2 linked regions of the Homo sapiens genome follow. The protein of the gene in region 1 interacts with the protein of each later gene in a pairwise test. Each region holds a gene or a part of one and is shown in the gene's direction. Other genes may lie near its edges.

Region 1 (9,122 bases):
AGGCAAAACGTGGCAATTATCTGAACCTTCAAGTGTCTGTAAGGAACTCGAGAAGTAAGTGGCTGTCTACTATAAAAGCCACACATCAAATTCATCCACTACATTCTAAAATCTTAGAATGGTCCGTTCCTTCATTGGGAAATTAATATGTTGTAAGCAAAGACTTTTATAAATAGTACTGTATTGGTTCCCTAACATGCCCTTCTACCATCTGCCCAAAAATACTCCCAGAATTTGCTGCTTATACTTGTGTAAATTTTTGCTTCACCAAATTCCCTGTAACACATTAATTATACATTATGATTTAATTTATGAAAAGCAGTTTGGTGATTTCTCAAAGAACTCAAAACAGAATTACCATTTGACCCAGCAATCCCATTATTGGATTCTAAGTTGTTCTTATAAGTTGTTCTATCAAAGGAATATAAGTTGTTCTACCATAAAGACACATGCACAAGTATGTTCATCACAGCACTATTCACAATAGCAAAGACATGGAATCAGCATAAATGACCATCAGTGGTTGACTGGATAAAGAAAACATGGTACATATACACCATGGAATACTATGCAGCCATAAAAAAACGAGATCATGTCCTTTGCAGCAACGTGGATGGAGCTGGAGGCCATTATTCTAAAGCAAACTAACACGGGAACAGAAAACCAAATATCACCTATTCTGACTTATAAGTGGGAGCTAAACATTGAGTACACATGGAGACAAAGAAGGGAACCACAGACACCAAGGCCTACTTGAGGGTGGAGAGAGGGAGGAAGGTGAGGATCAGAAAACTACCTCTTGGGTACTATGCTTATCACCTGGGTGACAAAATAATTTGTACACTGAACCACTGCAACATGCAATTTACCTGTATAATGAACCTGCATATGTCCCCCTGAACCTAGAAAAAAAGTTTAAAAAAAAAAATTACAATGAAAATAATTGCACCTATCTAGTGATTACTGTGTGTCAGCACTCTACCAAATGCTTTGTATGTAGTAATTCTTTTAATCCTCATGACAACCCTATAAGTACTACTGTTATCTGCATTTTACATATGAAATAACAGATACACACAAGTAATTTGCCAAGATCTTAGTGTCAGCATTTCCTGTATTGTATTTACTTGAATCATTTTGAGAAAAGGAAAAGGAAAAAACACCTCAAAACACCTGGACAGTGAAAAAATAGCCTGAGTGGTTGTCTACTTGTTTTGTGTTTTTTGTTTTTTTGTTTTTTTTTTATTAGACGGAGTCTCACTCTGTTGCCAGGCTGGAGTGCAGTGGCACAATCTCGGCTTACTGCAACCTCCGCCTCCTGGGTTCAAGCAATTCTCCTGCCTCAGCCTCCTGAGTAGCTGGGACTACAGGCACACACCACCTCGCCCAGCTAATTCTTTTGTATTTTTAGTAGAAATGGGGTTTCACTATGTTGGCCAGGATGGTCTCGATCTCCTGACCTCGTGATCCATCCGCCTCAGCCTCCCAATCATTTAAGAATTCTCTAGGAAACCAGACGGGAAGTCACCCAGCCTCAGTTTAAACTCTTCCAAAAAGGATAGCACTTCCACACCAGGCAGTCCATTCCATTTTTGAATGCTCCTGATTGTTAGATCATTTTCTTTCTAATGTGAACAATTTTTCCCTTGTAATTTCTGCCTGCTGATTCTGGTTCTTCCCTCTGAAGCTATGCAGAATAGTCATTCATCATCCCATGCTAGCAGCCCTTCAAGATCTGAAGATTCTCTTGTCCCATGTGAGAATTCTGTTTGCCAGACTAAACACTGATTCTCACAGATTCAGCTCCTTTTTCTTCTTGCGCTTAGCCTTTCACCATCTCGATCAGACTTCCACAGATCTTCTCCGGTTTACAAACATGCTCTTTATACTAATAAAGAAAAAGAATGATTTTTCCGTAATTATAAAACTAACACACATTCCTCATAATGTAGAAATCATAGAAATTTGTAAGGAAAACAAATTCTTTATTTTTCCAACAGAAAAATTATGAAAATGAAGCACAGGAAAGAAGCCCTCTATATTTCCTTTATCCAGAGATAATAACCACTGTGTTAACATCTTAATATGTGTCCTCTCCAATTTTTTTAAATGTAAAGATCATATTCAACATTTTTTAAATCAATTGCTATTTTCACTTAATGAAAAGAAATATTCTTGTATTGGAGGAAAAGGAGCTCTTGTCACTTCTGGGTCAGTCCTTGCTGCCCCTACTCCTCTACCATTGACCTGATTCACAAGAGTGGTTTTCAGCCCTAAATTCCTGTTCAACTCCAAGGGTTATCACATTAGGCAGAGCTTCCCTTGAGTCAAATAAAACCCTTAGTGGATTGTGTGTGATCTGGGAATGGGCAGTTGTCCCTGGCTCAAAAACAGCAATGTGAGGTTTTATATTTGGCCTAAAGGAATCCAAGAATTTAGGGCTGCCATATCTGAATGCACCATCAAAAAGCACTGTCAAAGGCTTTTCACTGAAATGTTGATCCCCTCTACCTAAACGGTCCTATAGTTGGTTAGTGATCAGCTCCAAAACCCTTAACTGGCATGAAATTTAAGAGAAGCACGTTTTTTGTTAACTGACTATAAAATTCAACACGATATATGGCCAACTATAAACTACAAAAAGGTATTATTTGAAGCTCTATCTAGGTATAACCATGCTCCTGGCTCCTAATAACTACAACTTGCTTTCCCTTTTATTTCACGTGAATTCTTTCCTTTCACAATCACCAGATTAAGAAAACCAGGATGATCATGTGTTCTCAGAACCCCTCCTCTTAACCCCCTCTTAAAAAGCAGCCAGACAGCTTACAAAAGAGTGTCTTTCCTCTCAGTGTTAGTGATGGAACGGCTCTGGACGGTGATAACAGGATACTGGTGGTAACTCTGTTCTATCATTGCTGAGCCTCACTTCTTCAGACCAAGTGCAGGGTCCGTGGCTCCCAATTTGAATCACAAGGTATCTCAACAGCAAAATAAAACAATACAAAACAGAAAGCCCCTGGTTTTTCAGGATTACCTTCATAATGGTAAGGGTGAACGTGAGCCCTAGCATACGTTTGCACTCAGCAGCTTAATTTTCTAAACACAGATGTACTTAAAGGGACACCCTTTTTCAATATCATGATGTATCCAGGTACAACTTAGATCATGTAGGCCATACCTACAACCTAGATGCAGCCATCATGGCACTCACTTGGCAGTTTTAACAGTGACGCAAAACGATTTCCTCACATCAGCCTACTTTTTTTTTCTTTTCACAATAGGTGAGGTGAATACAAAAATTAGCCAGGTGTGGTGGCTCACACCTGTAGGTCCCAGCTACTTGGGAGGCTGAGGTGGGAGGATCACTTGAGCCTAGAGGCAGAGGTTGTAGTATGCCAAGATCACACCACAGCACTCCAGACTGGGCAACAGAGCGAGACTCTTTCTCAAAAATCAAAACAAAATAAAACAATACAAAAATAGGTGACACGGCCTAGCTCCCCTGTTACCCAGGACTGGTCTACAGACAGGGTACTTCAAAATCACCTGAGGAGCTTTCTAGAAAAACAGATTCCCAGGCTGCCTCTATATATGGACATTCTGACTCCCCAGGTCTGAGGGGGTGCAAGGGAATCTGCATTTTTTAGTTTTTCAGCTTACATTGAGAACTACTGGGCTAGCAGCACTGAAAATATAAGAAAACCAGGACTATGGATCTGGCTTACCTGATGACCAAGAGCAAGTTAGTTGCTACACTTTAATTACTTTACTCAAGTGGATTTTTTGGGACAATTATGCTAGCCACTATTTTATATAAACTTGCTTGATCTCCATTAAAAATATTAAGTATATAAACAGGTGGTAATTTTTTCTCATTTCTTCTGTTGAAAATTTAACTGGCAGGAACAGCTACTCAAAATCATCAAGATTCCTATCCTCTTTTTCATTCAGCTGACTTCTCCTTAACTTCTAGCAAGTTCTCTCAGCTCACAGGGCAAACAAACATATCCATTAAGGAAGTGCCTTGAGAATTGCTTAGGATTTCATTATATAATAGGATTTCATTATAGAATTTCATTATCAGTTCCCATTTTGTTTCTGGATTCACTTTGCTGTTGTCCGACTCTTAAAACATTTTTTTAAATAATAGTTATCTGCCAACTAAAAATGCGGGTCATGTTTATCTCGAGCTTTTCTCTAGTCACGCCTCCTAGTAGTTACTGGCTAAATTACTGAATTTGGGGTTTGATGCATAAAATCTTGTACAGTGACTTTAAAATGAAATACTGGCTCATCTATAGGGAATGTGTCCTTTTCAAAAACAAGTAAACAATTTTCTATCGCTAGAGATGGTAGCACCAATAATTTGATAATTATTCTCTTTGTTATAGAGATGTATTTTATTTACATTGAGAACTACTGGGCTAGCAGAAAGGGAGAGAGAGGGAGAGAGACATGGAGAGAGAGTGAGAGAGACAGTGAGAGAGAGGGGGAGGAAAAGAGGGAGAGAGAGAAAGGGAGACGGAGAGAGAGGGGGAAAGAGAAAGGTTTAAAATTTCATTAAAATTATTAAAACATAGCCCTCATTTGGAGTTGGCAGATAACTATCATTTTTTAAAAATGTTTAAGAATCAGAAAGCAATGAAGTGAATCCAGAAACAAATGGGAGCCTATAATGAAATCCTATCATGAAATCCTAAATTATTACATCCTAAAATGTCAATTTTTATTTTAATTTGGTTCCTTCTCTACAATTCTGTGAGTATTAAGGCTAAGGGGAGGGAGACATGATACCTTAAAGTAAGAGGGAAATATGACTTATTTATGCATTGTCTTTTATTTTAAATGATTTCCTGCAACTTTCCAGCTTTAGGTGGATGCCAGCCCAAATGATTGATTAGCATTTTCTACCGGCTCATCTTCTGGGGACGATGTAATATACGGGGGTCAGATGTTGAGAAATTGACTCATTTAGGTTTTGAATGTAACTTTTACAAACTTAGATATTAAAGCTTAGGTTGTCATTAATCAAATGCATTTAAATATTTTTCACTTGTCATGTCCCCCAAATCGTGTCTGTTGATCGTTGTCAGACAGCTAGGGAGGACGTAGAGGTCTGAGAGCTGAATGCCAGCATCCCTTCTGCAGCACCCCAAATCAGTGGGCCCAGGACTCTCCTTGCCTAGCCAGTGCGGGGTTAGCAAACTTTTTTTCTGTAAAGAGCCAGATGGTAAATATTGTAGGCTTTACGGTCTCTGTCCAACTATTCAACTCTGCCATTGTGGGGCAAAAGCAGCCATAGACCGTATGTATATAGTCCATAAATGAATGGTCATGGCTGTATTCCAATAGACTTTTGTTTACAAAAACGGGCAGGGAGTTGGATTTGGCCCATGGGCCATGCTTTGCCAACTCTCAATCTAGTGACTTCACAAGATAATACATTCCACTTATAGTCCTGAGTGTTGCTTCTTCATTCTATTCAACAATTATTACAGGTGGGGGAGGAGGGGTTATGTTAAGCCAAGCACTGTACTGGTAAAGAGAAAAAAGTAGCTCCACAGTCCATACCTCTTTCTCTTTCCCTCTCTCTCTCTTCCTGTCTCTCCCCTTCTCTCTCCCTATCTACCTACCTATCTCCCCTTCTCTTTCCCATTCTCTCCCCCTCTCTCTCCCTCCCTTTTTCTCCCACTTTCTTCCCCCTTCCTTCTCTCGCCCTCCTCCCCCAACCCTTCACCCCACCACCCCCTTCCTCTCCTCCATGTTTCTGACTGGATCCTACTGTTCTCAGGGTATAGTCCAGAGGATTTAGAAGGCCCCACAGGATACTGTCCTTGTTTTCCTCTCATGCTCCACCTCTCACCATGGCCCTTGTCTACATGCCCCAAGTTCTAGAATTCTATATCAACTCTTCTAATATAGTTCAAAATTCAACTCTATTTTCTCAGCCCCTAAGATCTGGGTAAGTTCTACTGAGATCTCAGATCTTTACTCCATGCCTTGTGGAATTCCTCCAAATTTATCCAAGTTCCCAGGACAAGGATAGGGATAGCATTTGAAAGTCTCATGGTCACTTCTGACTTTGGGTTCCTGGTTCCACTTAAAACAACACACTGACCCAGATGTGAAACTCAGTCATCCCTCATTTTTCTCTAAGGACCTTGTCCATGCAGAGCATTTGTGAGCCTGGTAAACTTCACTGAACTGTTGGGGATCAGGAAGGAGAGTCACACCATGCCATGCTACATGTAACCAAAACACCTTGTTAGCCATAACTTCCACATTCTTAAAAGGTCTTTAACCAGCTGTCGCCAAGGGTTTCTCCCTGGGTTTTCAACCAGTGCAGTCCCCAGTAGCCTCACCATCCTGCTGGCTCCTCTCATCTCCCTCTTCCCTTACTCCCCTTTCCTCTCCTCTCCCTCTTTCAAGAGCAAACAAACAAGTTTCTCCCACTGCAGAGCAGTTTAATCAGTCTGAGCTTGCTTGAGCTCCTACCACCACCCATACTTTCAGAGTCTCTGTGTCTGCAAGGGGCTTAACAGAATATTTTACCAAACAAAAGTAATTCTTCCCTAAGAGAGATTCTACACTGAAGTCAACACTGTCAGGAATTTTCCAGTCTATTAAACTCTAGGCCTTTTTACCTGCTATTCCCTTGCATGCCACAGTATTTCTTCTGTTTCCTCTAGATAACTCCTACTCATCCTTTAGAACACATCTTGTGATTTCCCGCAAGAATCCTTCCTACTGAAAGGATTCCTGTTTGTCCTGCAAAGTGCCTTATAGGTATATACCATAATACCAATCCAGGACCACTTAAATCCAAGCTTAAGTTTAGGGTAGATGCAAACTGGGGCCACAGGGGAACTGGTTAACTTCTGACTCACCTTGAACATGAGAGGGTAAGCATTTTAAGGTCCCAGCTTCTTGTGTAGATGGTCTCCTTTAGTTTCCTCACTTGGCTGATTTCCATATCCCTCACCTTAAAACAAAAATGTAAATTTGCCAGGATCAGCCCTGCCCTAAGGGCAGAAGTGGCTTCCCTGCTTGCTTACTTCACTGGGTTCCTATTTACCCTCTATGTAGCACTTATCCCTTTCTGTCTTGTCAAAAAGCTAGTTGTTTTTAAGATTTTTTTTTCTCCTCCCAGTATTTTTAGTTGTTTTCAGTGGGAAGTTTGGTCCAAATAACCTAGGCCGCCATTACTGGAAACTGAAAGTCATTAAATCCTTCCTAATTAGGAAGCAGAACTTTTGCCAGATGCATTTGCAGGTGTTTTTGTAAGGCTGTGTTCCTAACCAGAAGATTTGATTCCTCTATCACAGAAAGCAGTATAGGAAACAAATCCATCTCTTTGGCCTTACTCATTTATTCAATAGTATTATTTGAGTGCTTCCTGTGTGCCAGGCACTGGGGTAAAGGTTACAACAGTGAGCCAGTAGAATCCCTGCCCTTCACTCCTTTGTTAAGAAAAAGCAGAGTAAATCATCTGAGCTACCAGTTTCAAGATTAGATAAGCCCTACCAACCAATTTAGGAAACCGCCAGTCCACTGCATAGTACTGTTGTAAGGGGTGGGACTTGGAGACATGATTAACTTACAAGGTAACAATTGAATAGAATAGTGCTTCTAAAACTTTAGCATGCACAAGAATCACCTGGAGGGCTTCTTAAAACATTACTGCACCCCATCCCCAGAGATTCTGATTCTTAGGTTTTGAGATGGATCCTGAGCATTTGCATTTCTAAGAAGCTCTAAGGAGATGCTTATGCAACTAGTCTAGGGACCACTCTTTGAGAACCATTGTTATAGTAGCCCTAGATAAAACTTATGGGTAAGTAGCTCCTTTACAAGATTAGGAATATTCCTTTACAATACTCTCCATTTCTGAAAATCCAAAGATAATCTTTAGCCAAGACCATTTAATGAGGAAGAAGGATTTTCAACAAATAGAGCTAGAACAACTGGATATCCACATGCAAAAGAATAGATGCATGAGATCCCTTATCTCATATTGTATCCAAAATTAACTTATCCTGAATCAAAGACCTAAGCGTAAGGGCTAAACTGTAAGATACTTAGAAGAAAACATAGCGATAAATCTTTATGGCCTTGGATTTGTAACTGTGTTCTTAGATATGACTCCAAAAGCACAAGCAATAAAAGGAAAAACAGATCAAGTGAACTTCGTCAAAATTAAAAAACTTTTTTGCTTCAAGGGACACTATCAAGTAAGTAAAAAGTAATTGCACAGAACAGGAGAAAATATCTGCCTATTATCCCTGACAAGGGACTTATATGTAGGATATATAAAGAACTCTTGTAACGCAAAAATAAGACAAATAACAAAAAATGCAAAGGATCTGAATAGATATTTCTCCAATAAAGATATTGCCAATAGGTACATGGAAAAAAATGCTCAACATCATTAGTCATTGGGGAAATGCAAATCAAAACTACAATTAGATACCACTTCACATCCACTAGAATGGCAATAATTTTTTTAAATTTTAACAGAAAATAGCAAGTGTTGGCAAAGATGTGGAGATACTGGAATCCTCATACAATGTTGGTAGGAATGTAAAATGGAGCAGCTACTGTAGAAAACAGTTTGGCAGTTCCTCAACAAGTTAAACAGAATCACCATATGACCCACTTCTAATTTAATTCCCCAAAGAATTAAAAACAGGTATTCAAACCAAAACTTGAACATGAATATTCATAGCAGTATTATTCACGAGAGTTAAAAGGTGAAAATAACCCAAATGTCCATCAACTGATGAATGGTGAAACAAAACGTGATATATCTATACAGTGGAATATTACGTAGCCATTAAAAGGAATGAAGGGCTGGGCACAGTGACTCACGCCTGTAATCCTAACACTTTGGGAGGCCAAGGTAGGGGGGATCACCTGAGGTCAGGAGTTCAAAACCAACCTGGCCAACATGGCGAAACCATGTCTCTACTGAAAATACAAAAAATTAGCCAGGCGTGGTGGTGGGCACCTGTAATCCCAGCTACTCGGGAGGCTGAGACAGGAGAATCACTTGAACCCTGAGGTGAGGTAGAGGCTGCAGTGAGCCAAGATCACGCCATTGCACTCCAGCCTGGGCAACA
Region 2 (4,637 bases), on another chromosome or scaffold:
GGCTGGGGGTGGAGGGCACCTCCAAAAAGAAACACCACCGCAGCTGACCTCCGACATGGGGGCTGGGAGGGGCTGACACACAGCTGTGCTCTCATCTCCACTCTCCCCAGTGCCCTGGGTGACCTTGGGCAAGTCCTTGGCCTTGAGGCCTCAGTGTCTGTCTAGGGGTCAGCTGGGCTTCACAGCAGGAGGATGAGTATTGCCCCGTGTACAGATTGAGGAAACCAGAGCTCAGAGAGGTGCCGTGTCTTGCTCCAGGTGACACAGAGAGTCAGCACCAGATCCGAGAGGTCTCCTCCCCTCTCCCCACTCCTGCTGTCCTTGCTGGGACTTTGGGAGCAGGAGGTGGAACGAGAATGGAAATGGGCTTTGAAGTCCTCACTCAACCAGATAGGACCAGAGCAGCTTCTGGCGCCAGAAAAGCAGACCAAAGAGGCTCTGAGAGTCCGAATCGGAGGCCCCGCTCCAAACACAAACAAGCTGCTGCCTTGCTCTGAACCTGTTTCCCCATCGGGAAAATGGGGCTGTTTATACCAGTGATTTTCAACCTTCCAAGTTTTTCCTTGGGGGTGACATACACTTTTATAATCAAATGGAATTATCCAGGGAAGGCTGCTGGGTCTGTACTCCAATCTCATTATTCATTAATGGATGGCCAGTCACTGACCACCTGGCAGATACTGGTTTTCCGTCATCTCACACTCAGCTCTGTCCAAGGTGGGACAAGACCCAAGTGAAGCTGGTCTGGGGGACATGGGGGACCAGGGGGTTGGGGATTTGGAACTGGGCCATCAGTAATGTGGTCCCCAGGTTTCCTCCCACTGTGGGTTCTAGGAGTCCCTCATTCCAGGAACCTCTCCAGCCCTGCTCACACTCCAGAGCCGTGGGTCCCTGGTTCAAGCAAAGCTCCCCTCAGATCCCCTTGCTGGCCTGGGTCTGACATCCCCGACTCCGGGACCTGATGGGAGCCCCTCTGCCTGCAGCTCCCACCATGTGAGGGTGGAGCACTTCATGAACCACAGCATCACCACACTGGCCAAGGACACGCCGCTGGAGGAGGTGGTCAAGGTTGTGACCTCCACAGACGTGACCGAGTATCCCCTGGTGGAGAGCACAGGTGCCCAGCTGGAAGGGAGGAGGAAGTCGGGGGTAGGGGATGCCCTCTGCCTCCTTCTTGAACCTGTCAGGCAGACAGGATCTGCATCCAGGCTCTGTGACTTAGCAACCAACCGTGTGACCTTGAGCAAGTCACTTCACCTGAGCCTCAGTTTCCTCATCAGCAAAATGGAAATCATGGCTACCCTCCCTTGGGGTGGTTGACATGTCTAAAGAGAGTCGGCTGGGTGCTTGTAAGGCAGTCCCTGGGCAGCTGCTGGGGTAGGAGCATGGGGACACCACCAAGGTCTTCCGGAAGCTTGGCCCTCAGGCCTGTTTCTTCATAATGCACCTCCCTCCCTCTCCCTCTCTACTTGCCAGAGTCCCAGATCCTGGTAGGCATCGTGCAGAGGGCCCAGCTGGTGCAGGCCCTCCAGGCTGAGCCTCCTTCCAGGGCTCCAGGACACCAGGTGGTTACTCCTGAGGGGCGTGGGGATGGGGCGGGGGTGGGTCAGCAGGGATGGGAGGGGAGGGACCCGCTGATCTCCTGAGGGAGAGGTGGTCTGAGAGAGGCATCCTGGGGAGGCCGGCCCTGCACCCATAACTCTTCCCCACTCCCAGCAGTGTCTCCAGGACATCTTGGCCAGGGGCTGCCCCACGGAACCAGTGACCCTGACGCTATTCTCAGAGACCACCTTGCACCAGGTAACAAGTATTGGGGAGTGTGACACACGCAGCCCCCGGGGCAGGGCAAGAGCTGATGAGGAGCTCAGGCTCCAGCCTCCCGTCCCAACCCCGCCCCGCCCATCTTATCCTGCTTCCTGCTCCTCCTGGGCCTGGACAGGGCAGCTCCTGCCGTCGCCCCTCACTGCCAGGGTTGCGGGGATGATGCAGAGAGATGAGGGAATTGGGGGGCTTGGCAAATGGAAGTCTCTGGGTGGAGAAAGACAGTGGAGTTGCACCAAGGCACACGTGCGTTTCAATTTCAGGTCCACCCCATTTTGCCTGTGTGATCTTGGACAAATTATGTAGCCAGTTGAGACAGAGCCTGACACAAGGATGGGGCAAGGGCGGAGGCTGACAGGGGACCTGGAGATGGCCCCGCCCCCTCTGTGCTGCTGGAGGGTGCTGGATGTTGGGTCCTGTCCACTTGCAGCCCCGCCCAGACCCTTGAGTGGCCTCTGGCATCCCCCAGTGGCCCACACTGGACATTGCAGGCCTGGGTCTGTTGCCTCCCACACATATCAGGCCCCGCCCCTCTTCCTGGCTCAGAGGCGTGGCAGAGTGGGCCAGAGGGTGGGCTGGGCGCCATCTACCCTCCAGTGTTTCCTAACAATCCCCCATCCAGGCACAAAACCTCTTTAAGCTGTTGAACCTTCAGTCCCTCTTCGTGACATCGCGGGGCAGAGCTGTGGGCTGCGTGTCCTGGGTGGAGGTACCAGGGTCCCGGGGGCAGAGCAAAGCAGGGGACCCATGCCTGAGAAGGCTGGGGAGATGGGGAGGTGGGGGGACACCAGCATGCTCCCATCCAAACCTGGGGGGATTCAGAGGATACTTATGAGTCCCTCTTTCTGGCCCAGATTGGCCACTGGGCCTGGCTCCCCTACCTTGTTTTCTGGCCAGTGGCCAGCCTGCCCTTCTCGGCCTCAGTGATCCCATCTGTGCAATGGGGTGGCACAGGCTCTACTATTCAGCCTGGAAATGAACCTTAGGGGACTAAAAATGCTGGAGCCCCCCTCACAACCTCCTCTACATCCCCCCCCACCTCCACCCCCTTTCTCTGTTCTAGATGAAGAAAGCAATTTCCAACCTGACAAATCCGCCAGCTCCAAAGTGAGCCGGCCCAGCAAGATGAAACAGGGCACCCCAGCTGACCTGGTACTGAGGTTGGGCTGAGACCCTGCTTCTCTTCCCCCATCACCACCTGCCCCTCCCTCCAGCCCAGCTCCATTCTTTGGCATAACAGGCAACTCTAACCTAGCCCAGAAGAGGATGGCTCATCCTGGGTGGGACGATGGCTCCTGCCTTGAAAGACAAAAATCCCACCTTGGGCAGAGCTGAGTGTGAGAAGATGGAAAACCAGTATCTGCCAGGTGCTCAGTGACTGGCCATCACATTAATGAATGACGAGATTGGAGTACACTGTCACCAAGGGCAGGCAAAGATGCCCTCTGGGGTTGTCTGGTTCCCAGTGAGAGGCTCCTGAGAAAAATAAAGCTGGTTCCCAGAGCTGCTGTCCATCCCTCATCTCAGCTGCAAGGTTGCTGGTCTGGGACTGGAGCTCCTTACCTGCGCTGGCCCAGAGTGAGTTTCCCGTGGTCACGTGGGCACTGCAGGCTCGGGCCCCTGGGCTCCTCCTCATGCTCCATTTCTTGGCAGGGAGATGATAGGGAGAGAGGTTCTCCCACCAGGTCTATGATGCTTGTCCTCATGAATAAGTGGGATACTGTGTCACTCAAACCCTAGTCTCCTGCTTGGCTGGGCCACAGCTCATAAAGCCAGGACCGAAGTGTGGCTCCTTCTGGAGTCCACAGAGCCCTGGGCATCCTCCATGAGCCTTCTATGCCTGGGTGGCCCAGGTTGACCGGCTGTGTATGTGTTGGGGTTAAGGATCCCCCCTGACTCCCTCCGGACTCTGTCCAGGGGCCCAAGGTCACATCTTCCCCAGCAGAGACCAGGCCAAGGTCATCCAGGGTGAATCCACCACTTTAATGTCCTCAAAGAAACTTGAGTGAGATGGGAGGGAGCTGCAAGGAGGGGGAGTGGGCTCCCAGGGGTGAGGAGCAGGGGACACGGAGGAAGCAGGTTCAGAGAGGGAGGGACAGACAGACAGACACTCCAGAGAGACAGATGTCCTGGGTGAAGAGAGCCGGGGAGCAGGTGCTTAGCTACCAGAAGTGGTCACCCCACCTTTGCTGGGGGGCAGATACACAGAGAGAGTGGGGAGGGACTGAACCCCAGGTAAAGGCAGGGTTCCCAGACCCCACTGTAAGTGGGTCTCAATTCTCTCCATGGCTGTCCTCCTGGGGGCCTGGCTGTTGCTCCTCTGGGCCAGGCTGCCCTGGTGTCTCTGAGAGTCCTTGAGTTCCCTGAGGGCAGACACCCTGCAGGGGAAGGTGCCCACCTGAGTGAAGTAATGAAGGGGGAGGGGGTTATGGCTCCCACTGCTGGGGCAGGTCCACCGAGGCACAGAGAGGCCACCATGAGCACTGGCCCCATCCCTGCCGCACCTACCCTGTGCCTACCCGAAGGGTCAAGAGATGCCCTCCCCTGGACCCCGGGGTCCAGATATGCCTGGGCTGCCCACCAGGCGAGGTCATGGTGAGAGCAGGTGCTGGACCAGCACAGCCCCCACCTCAGTTATAGAACACCTCGTCCTCCTCCCAGAGGGAGCCGCTGTCCATGGAGGGGAGGGAGCCCAGGGGGTGGGTTCCACCCTCGGGTCCTTGGGCCCCGGGCAGCCGCCGCCGATGCTGCAGCTCTGGGCTGGGGGGCTGCGGGATGCCAGCGGTGCTGGGGGGCTCCTCAGGTGAGGGACAGCT

What was found. Proteins that work in one complex are often made in the same cells at the same time.
Region 2: the proteins of SPMIP4 (region 1) and CLCNKA interact in binary tests that used the Homo sapiens proteins (3 or more experiments, as listed by UniProt).

The regions. Positions count from the first base shown.
Region 1 is NC_000007.14:25,169,606-25,178,727, reverse strand, and holds part of SPMIP4 (sperm-associated microtubule inner protein 4), read left to right. Parts: intron 1-1,096; exon of another isoform or gene 1,097-1,888; intron 1,889-2,830; exon of another isoform or gene 2,831-2,914; intron 2,915-9,122. UniProt on the Homo sapiens protein: Microtubule inner protein (MIP) part of the dynein-decorated doublet microtubules (DMTs) in flagellum axoneme. May serve to reinforce and thus stabilize the microtubule structure in the sperm flagella.
Region 2 is NC_000001.11:16,030,727-16,035,363, forward strand, and holds the end of CLCNKA (chloride channel protein ClC-Ka), read left to right. Parts: intron 1-983; coding exon 984-1,117; intron 1,118-1,476; coding exon 1,477-1,565; intron 1,566-1,716; coding exon 1,717-1,800; intron 1,801-2,443; coding exon 2,444-2,530; intron 2,531-2,884; coding exon 2,885-2,932; 3' UTR 2,933-3,324; downstream 3,325-4,637. UniProt on the Homo sapiens protein: Anion-selective channel permeable to small monovalent anions with ion selectivity for chloride > bromide > nitrate > iodide. Forms a homodimeric channel where each subunit has its own ion conduction pathway.